Linked DNA regions of Homo sapiens. The protein of the gene in region 1 interacts with the protein of each later gene in a pairwise test. Each region holds a gene or a part of one and is shown in the gene's direction. Other genes may lie near its edges. The genes, in order: SSX7 and DNAAF11.

What was found.
Region 2: the proteins of SSX7 (region 1) and DNAAF11 interact in binary tests that used the Homo sapiens proteins (3 or more experiments, as listed by UniProt).

Annotation. Positions count from the first base shown.
Region 1 is NC_000023.11:52,652,964-52,656,885, reverse strand, and holds the start of SSX7 (protein SSX7), read left to right. Parts: upstream 1-1,985; 5' UTR 1,986-2,124; intron 2,125-3,393; 5' UTR 3,394-3,413; coding exon 3,414-3,482; intron 3,483-3,901; coding exon 3,902-3,922.
Region 2 is NC_000008.11:132,633,942-132,637,863, reverse strand, and holds part of DNAAF11 (dynein axonemal assembly factor 11), read left to right. Parts: intron 1-3,922. UniProt on the Homo sapiens protein: Involved in dynein arm assembly, is important for expression and transporting outer dynein arm (ODA) proteins from the cytoplasm to the cilia. Acts as a crucial component in the formation and motility of spermatozoal flagella.

The DNA of each region.
Region 1 (3,922 bases):
AGGAGGCCGAGGCAAGGAGATTCGCTAGAACTCAGCAGGCAGAGGTTGCAGTGAGCCAAGATCGCACCATTGCATACTGGGCAACCAGAGTGAACCTCTGACTCTAAATACATACATACATACACACATACACACAATAATTCTCTTCCTCTTACAGCAGTTACAGCATCAGAAGGTAGCTTCATGGGTTCATTTCTCAAGAGAATACCTATTGTTTTCTGTATTTTCAGCAAGGTTTTCTTCTTCTAAAACCTCAAGGGCTGCGATGGCCACTCGGCAGCCTAGTGGATTGCCACCGTATGTGGACCCATGGTCGCCTGGCTTAATGCTCAGCATTATGTCATCGTCCCACAGCACTGCAGACATAGAGTATCAGCCCCCAGAAAAGGCCTTTCCGAGGAGGACTATATCAGGTCTGACATTTTCATGATCAACAGCCAGCCATCTACCAGTTCTGGCCAATCCTATCTGTATTTCAGCAGCAATGAACAGAACCAAGCTGGGAGCACGAGATGGGATGAGGGTAAGTTAATATACCACAAAGCTTACTGTTTTTACAGAGTTTCAGCTGGTTCGTTCGTTCCTTCCTTCCTTCCTTCCTTCCTTCCTTCCTTCCTTCCTTCCTTCCTTCCTTTCTTTTCTTTCTTCTTTCTTTCAAGTATGGATGTATTTATTTATTTGACAGTCTTGCTCTGTCGCCCAAGCTGGAGTGCAGTGGTGTGATCTCAGCTCAATGCAACGTCCGCTTCCCAGGTTCAAATCATTGAGCGAGCCCAGAAAGTCAAAAGCAGCCGGGGAAAAATAGCAAAAGGCAGGGCGGTGCATGCCTGTAGTCCCAAGGCTGAAGCAGGAGGATCGCTTGAGCCCAGGAGGTAGGGACCAGCCAGGACAACATAGCAAAACTGTCTCTGCTAGAAAAATTAAAAATATTAGTGGTGGTGGGGTGGTGTGAGCCTGTAGTCACCAGGCTGAGGCGGGAGGATTGTTTGAGCCCGGGAGGTAGAGGCCAGCCTGGCCAACATAGCGAAACCCCATTTCTACTAACAACAAGAACAACAAAAAAATTGCGTGGGTGGGATGGCTCACTCCTGTAGTTCCGAGGCCAAGGTGGGAGGACTGCTTGAGCCCAGGAGGTCAATACCAGCCTGGCCAACGTAGCGAAAGCCTGTCTTTCCTATAAGTAAATAAATAAATAAATAAATAAATAAATAAATAAATAAATAAAATAAAATAAAATAAAATAAAATAAAAATGAGCAGGGCAGAATGGCAGTAGTCCTGAGGCCGTGGTGGAAGGATCCCTTGAGCCCAGGAGGTTGAGGCCAGCCTGGCCAACATAGCGAAACCGTCTCTTTTAAAAAATCCAAAAACAAAAAATATTAGTGGGGGTGGGGTGGTTCCCACCTGTAGTCGCGAGACCGAGGCGGGAAGATTGGCCAAGGCGGATGTAACCAATACCACAATCACATCCCATAAGTAAATACATTTTCCTCTCTCCAGGGCTACAGGTAAAGGATGGTAATTGTGCACACCACACTTAGATTCCCTTTCAAAAATGTAATCAGAGGTTGGAGGGCCTTGGACTGTTTTTTCAGTAGCAACAGATATAGAAGCCACTGAAGAATGAAAGCCACTACTAAGTACAGCAAAGCTCTGCAAATGTGCTAGTCTGGAAAACATTGTGTCTTTCAAGTAGAAAAATCACAGATCCGACTATTTTTTTCTTCTCGCTGTTCAGACTAGAAAACAGATTTTTAACCCAAGATCCAGGGACGGTCTTCAGAGAGTTCAAAATCTCCTGACGGCGCCTGAGGACCACCCACTTTGTCGCAGTGGCAACAAAGTGTTGCTGGAGGAGGAGACAATATTGTGCAATGTCACTATGCAGGGATGATGGACCAATCAGGGCAGTTAGTGAACTCCATCTGGCCAATCAGAAGTCAGAACAGTAGCGTGATAAGCGAAGCTGATGTGGCTTCTATCAGTCCAGGCTCCAGGGACAGAACCTTCTCAAAGTGGGGGTGGAGACTCTGATTTTCCCGCCTAAAGCATCCCCTGGGATTGGCTACTTTAAGTTCAGAGTATGCATGCTCTGACTTTCTCTCTCGATTCTTCCATACTCAGAGTACGCACGGTCTGATTTTCTCTTTTGATTCTTCCAAAATCAGAGTAAGCATGCGCTGATTTTCTTTTTCCATTCTTACTACCCCTCCCCTCCTCTGTGGTGCATTTGTTATCTAGTTTTAATAAGGAGTGTATGTGAGGCAGGTCGCCATCTCAAATCCTTCCTGTCAGTTTCTAACTTTTTCAGGTATGGGATTTTTCCTGGGAACTCTAGTAACTTAACAAATTTGGGCCGGGTACGGTGGCTCACGCTTGTAATTCCAGCAGTTTTGGAGGCCACAGCTGGTGGATCACTTGAACCCAGGAGGCGGAGGTTGCAGTGAGCCATGATCACACCACTGCATCCCAGCCTGGGCAGCAGAGAGAGACCATGACTCAAAAAAAAAAAAAAAAAAAAACTCACTCAAATCTTTCCTCCTGGGATCAAGTGATCCTCTCGCGTAGGCCTTGGGACTAGAGGTGCACACCACTCCGCTTCTGTTAATGTGTGTGTGTGTGTGTGTGTTTTGTTGTTGTTGTTGTTTTAGTAGAGATGGTTTCGGTATGTTGGCCAGGCTGGTCTCAAGCTCATGGGCTCAAGCGATCCGCCCTCCTTGGCCTCCCAAAGTGCTGGGATTACAGGCGTGAGCCACTGCGCCTGGCTGATTGCTGCACCTTGAAACTCCCTACATTCTCTCTAAGTGATGGCGGGCTCTTGTAGTCTCAGAAATTCTAGCTCTCTTCTTCTAATAATTTACAAATCACCCAGTAATAGCCTCTAAATCCGTTCATATTAGCCATGCTCATTTCTCTTCAACAGAACAGAACCCCCTATCCCTCTGCCTGATCAGATCCATCACCAGAGAGACGATGTTATCTCTGGGACTCATTTCCCTTCCATTATTTATTGAGTCGGGGTGTCAGCATGCCCCCACTGAATAAAATTACACAGTCACATCTCTGCCTTCCCAACAAGGGTCTGTACATCTTTCAGAGTAAGGCTAGCCCCAGGGAAACTACTAACAACATTAGCCAACCCCCTCCCAAAGACTCAAGGCTGCTTTGCCCACAGGAAGCCTGTCATCCCAAATCAATACTTCTCCCAGAGACCCCTGGTTCCCTATTTTCATCTGACTTCGCCCCATGTCATTACTCAGGGACAGATAAGCCCCAGATGGAGAAATGAAGCACCTGATTCCAGGTGACTGAGGGTGGCCGGCCTTCACTGATTTCTCCCTCCACAAGACCAAAGCTGCTGTGGCTGGAAAGACTCAGGCTATTTCTCTTGCAGGTCAGACTGCTCCTGGTGCCATGAACGGAGACGACGCCTTTGCAAGGAGACCTAGGGCTGGTGCTCAAATACCAGAGAAGATCCAAAAGGTGAGGTGACCTGGAGGGAGCAGAGTAGTGGCCCAGGGGACAGTGTGGGGTGGCCAAGTTTCTGAGGAGGGGAGGACAGAGATACTGGAGACAAGGACCAGGGTCTTGGGGGAGATCTGGATCCTTGAGAGCCTCCCATCCTCGCTCTGTCATCAACTAGCATCCTTGGAGACAAGTCTGTGACCGTGCACTACATTTGGTGAATCTCAGTCCATTCTGGAAAGTGGGAAGAGAGTCAGTCAGCAGCATTAAAGCCCTACTGTGTGGCAGGGGTGAAGCTAGGAAAGGTCGCTCATGTTGTCGGTTAGCCATGGCATCATCCCCACTTCCCAGATCCAGCACACAGGAAGGGGCTCCAGCTGAATGGCAGACATGTCTAGCTGAGTCACTGACAAAATTCCTTTTTTATCTTTTCCTAGTCCTTCGATGATATTGCCAAA
Region 2 (3,922 bases), on another chromosome or scaffold:
TGGCAGCAACAGTGAATGTGTTGCTTCAGATAATGGAATATTCCAGAGAGCCCAAAGTAATTATTTGAATGGCTAGACCTTTAATATTGTTTGAATAGTTTTAATAAATCCCTGAAAAATAAATTGCATACTTTTCACCTTTCTCATCCAAAACACACAGAACTTAATTTGACTTTTTCTCAATGAGTTCAAATCATAGTTACGAAGAACATTCATCATTACTGATAAGAATTCATTATTACTTGTTTTTTTTTTTTTTGAGATGGAGTCTCACTCTGTCACCCAGGCTGGAGTGCAGTGGCACGATCTCGGCTCACTGCAAACTCTGCCTACCAGGTTCAAGTGATTGTCCTGCCTCAGCTTCCCAAGTAGCTGGGATTACAGGCATGTGCCACCATGTCTGCCTACTTTTGTATTTTTAGTAGAGATGTGGTTTCACCATGTTGGCCAGGCTGGTCTTGAACTCCTGACCTCAGGTGATCCACCTGCCTCGGCCTCCCAAAGTGCTGGGATTACAGGCATGAGCCACCGTGCCCGGCAGGTTCACAGTCTTTGGTGTGCATCAGAGCACGTGGAGGCCTTTTCAAAACACAGACTGCTGTGCTCCTCCCCCAGGGTTTCTGGGTCAGGTCTGACATGGGGCCTGAGATTTCACATTTCTAACAAAATCTGGTAATTCTGCTGCTGGTGCAGGAACCTCATTTGACAACCACTACTGCGTATGTTACTCTTATACCATATCCCCCCAATCGAGTAATTTTAGAACTGAGGAAAAAATATTATTTCTTGAGAAATCATACAACAGAGAATATTAAGATAGCAATGTTACGTTTCATGTAATTCTAAGAGTTCCCAGCCTGCATGTGGCTCCATGTTCCTGGAAAGAGAATGCATGGATACATCGCCTGTTCAATAGGCATTTTTTCAGTTCTCAAAGGACGTTTGTTTCTTAGACTTCTGTGTTCTCTGCAGTCAAGAGACTGCTGACTGCTGGATTAATGGAACACATTTCTTCTAATGTAAAATTTCTCAGATTAAGAGAATGAGTGATTCAAGTAATTGAATATAGAATAAATGATAAATTGTCTCATACATAACCTAAACTGATCATTATTATACAGTGATTTCCTAGAAAATGAACTGATGAGACCCAGACTATCATAGGACTAGATCTTGTAGTGTAATGCTGTGAGCCGTTCCCTTGGAAGGGCTAAGGGTCCAGGAGTCCTCATGGCCACCGCAGCTGAGCCTGTGTCAGTGCTGCAGCTGAGCCTGGTCAGGCTAGAGGTGTGAGAGCCATCATATGGCTGCTGCAGACAGGGTCAGAGGTTGTGCCAGGTACTTTGGGCACAGTGTTTTTGATCCTCCCAGACCCATTCAGGGAGACAATTAGGTACATTCAGAGATGAGGAAGTCAGGGCTCAGGGAATGAACACTGCTTGTTTAGGCTGACATATCTGGCAAGTGACACAGGTGGGATCTGAACCTATGTGAGTCGGACCTTGATGCCTCCACCATTCACACTATACCCACATTCACTGCTTCTCTCCGGGTTAAATTATAGGCTTTGGATCAAGTCTTTCCTTTCAGAAAGACTTCTCCAAATTAACTGCTTCAATAGAAAACAGCCCCTTTTTGAAAAATGGTATTCATATGTTTACTACTATGTAAAAATAGGTTGATATGCTTTAGAGTCTTAATTACCATTTCATTGAAAGCTTGTGAGCTGCTTAAAAGGAATTGTGTTAATAAATGTATTATTTTCCTAGGGCTGCTGTAACAAAGTACTGCAAACTAGATGGCTTAGACAACAGAAATGTATCATCTTGTAGTTCTGAAGGCCAGACGTTCAAGTTCAAGATGTTGACGGGACTGGTTCCTTCCAGGGGCTGCGAGGGAGAATCTGCTTCATGCCCTCCCTCCTAGCTTCTGCTGATTTGCTGGCCAATCTTTGGCATTCTTGAGCTTGTAGACACATTACCCTGAGGGTCTCTGCCTTCCTCTTCACAAGACTCTTTATAAAGACACCAGTCATATTGGCTTGGGGCCCACCTGCTCCAGGATAATTTAGTCTCAGTGAATTATATCCATAGTGACCCTGTTTCCAGAAAGTCCCTGATTTGAGCTACTGGGGGTTAGGACTTCAACATCTTTTTTTGTCAGGGGACATCTATAATAACCCTATTTCCCAAAAGTCCATGATTTGAGCTACTGGGGATTAGGACTTCAACATCTTTTTTTGTCAATTCAACCCAAAACAACAGAGTAGTTATTTTAGATAGTCACATAGAAGAGGTGTGAGGAGAGTCAGCCCTTTTCAAGGTTTTTCTTCCCAGTGTCTGAGCCACTCCAGAAGTAGGTGGGCCCTGCAGTATAGTGGGAAACAGATTTGTTAGCAGACAAACCAAGGTCTGACCCCTGCTTCCACTGCCTGTGAATTGTGTGCCTCATTTTACTCATGTATAGTAGGATCATAATTCCTACTTCAAGGGAGTTCTGTGAGGCCTTCAGTACATCTTAGTGTCCCTCTCTCTGCTTCAGCACTTGCACAGTTATTATCAATAAGTGTGGACACTCCACCTTTGTGCTGCAGGAATCCTGGGTGAAGAAAGATCAAGAAACGCTCAGCTTAAAACTGGATCTCTGATTCTTAGGCCTTCTAAACTCAGACATGATTTTGGATTGAAGGAAATGTGGGCCAATTTCAAAGACTAACAGAAATCACTAAAAAAGTGAGGTTCCTAGAATAGGTGCTGGGGTACAGTCCCAAATTTGTCATCAGTTATTAATATGAGGTCTTTTGCCTCCTGTCAGTAAAGTGACAGAGGGTTCAGTTGTCATAGCCTTTTAGGAATGTAGTTCTAATTAAATCAAAATAGACTTACATCATTTATAAGACAGAAATCAATCAATCAATCAATCAATTAATGTACTTCAATTACAAGGAAGAAAAGATCACCTTGCTCCCCAGGGTTCTGTTGGGAAGAAATCCTAGTTGAAAGAAATTATCTAGAGTTTTCTAGCTTGTTATAATATACAGTTATATATAATGTATTTATGTTAATATATATTTATATATAAATTATACTATATAAATTAATATAACAAAGTGCCACAAACTGGATGACTTAACAGAAATTTATGAAAGTGCTTTATTTATATAGTATTAGTTATATATAAATATATTTACTTTTATGTTGATTCATATATTTATATCAGTGTATTTACTTATATATACTTACAAAATAAGTAAATTTCATTTATCCAAAAATTTCCAAATTGATTTGATCCCAATCCTGTATTAAATTAGATCAAATTAAGTATGTGGACCACAATTACTTAATGCCTTAAATAATAGGTTTTATTGCATTGAATTTATCATTATGGTCTCATAAGTAATGGTATGAAGATACCTTTATTGAAGGATACTACAAGAAACAGCCTTATGAAACCTGTGACTGTATGGCCATATTTCTACAGAAACAATGCTTGACATCTCTCAATATCTCCATTATGAAACTCTGTGCTAGAAATGTGTTTTAGAGCTGCATGTTAGAGGAAAGCTACAAACTTTATTTTTTCCTTAAAGACCATGAAAATTGTGTAACTAGTTATGTTTTTCTATTTCGCTTTGGCTGCCAAGAAGCTCAGAACCAAATCTGCAGCCCATCTATAGCAACCATATGAGTCCTTATGACCAGAGCATATGTGGCATTATCTTTTTTCCAAATCTCTACATAATTTTGACTTATAATTCAGCTGATTCTAATAATTTTTTAATTTATATTTGACTAAATCTTTGTGTGTATTTTTTTTTCCTTTTTTATGTTTCTTATTGCTGCTGTAACAAATTGAGACAAACTTAGTGACTTAAAACAATGCAAATGTATCACCTTATGATTCTGGAGATCAAAAGCCTGAA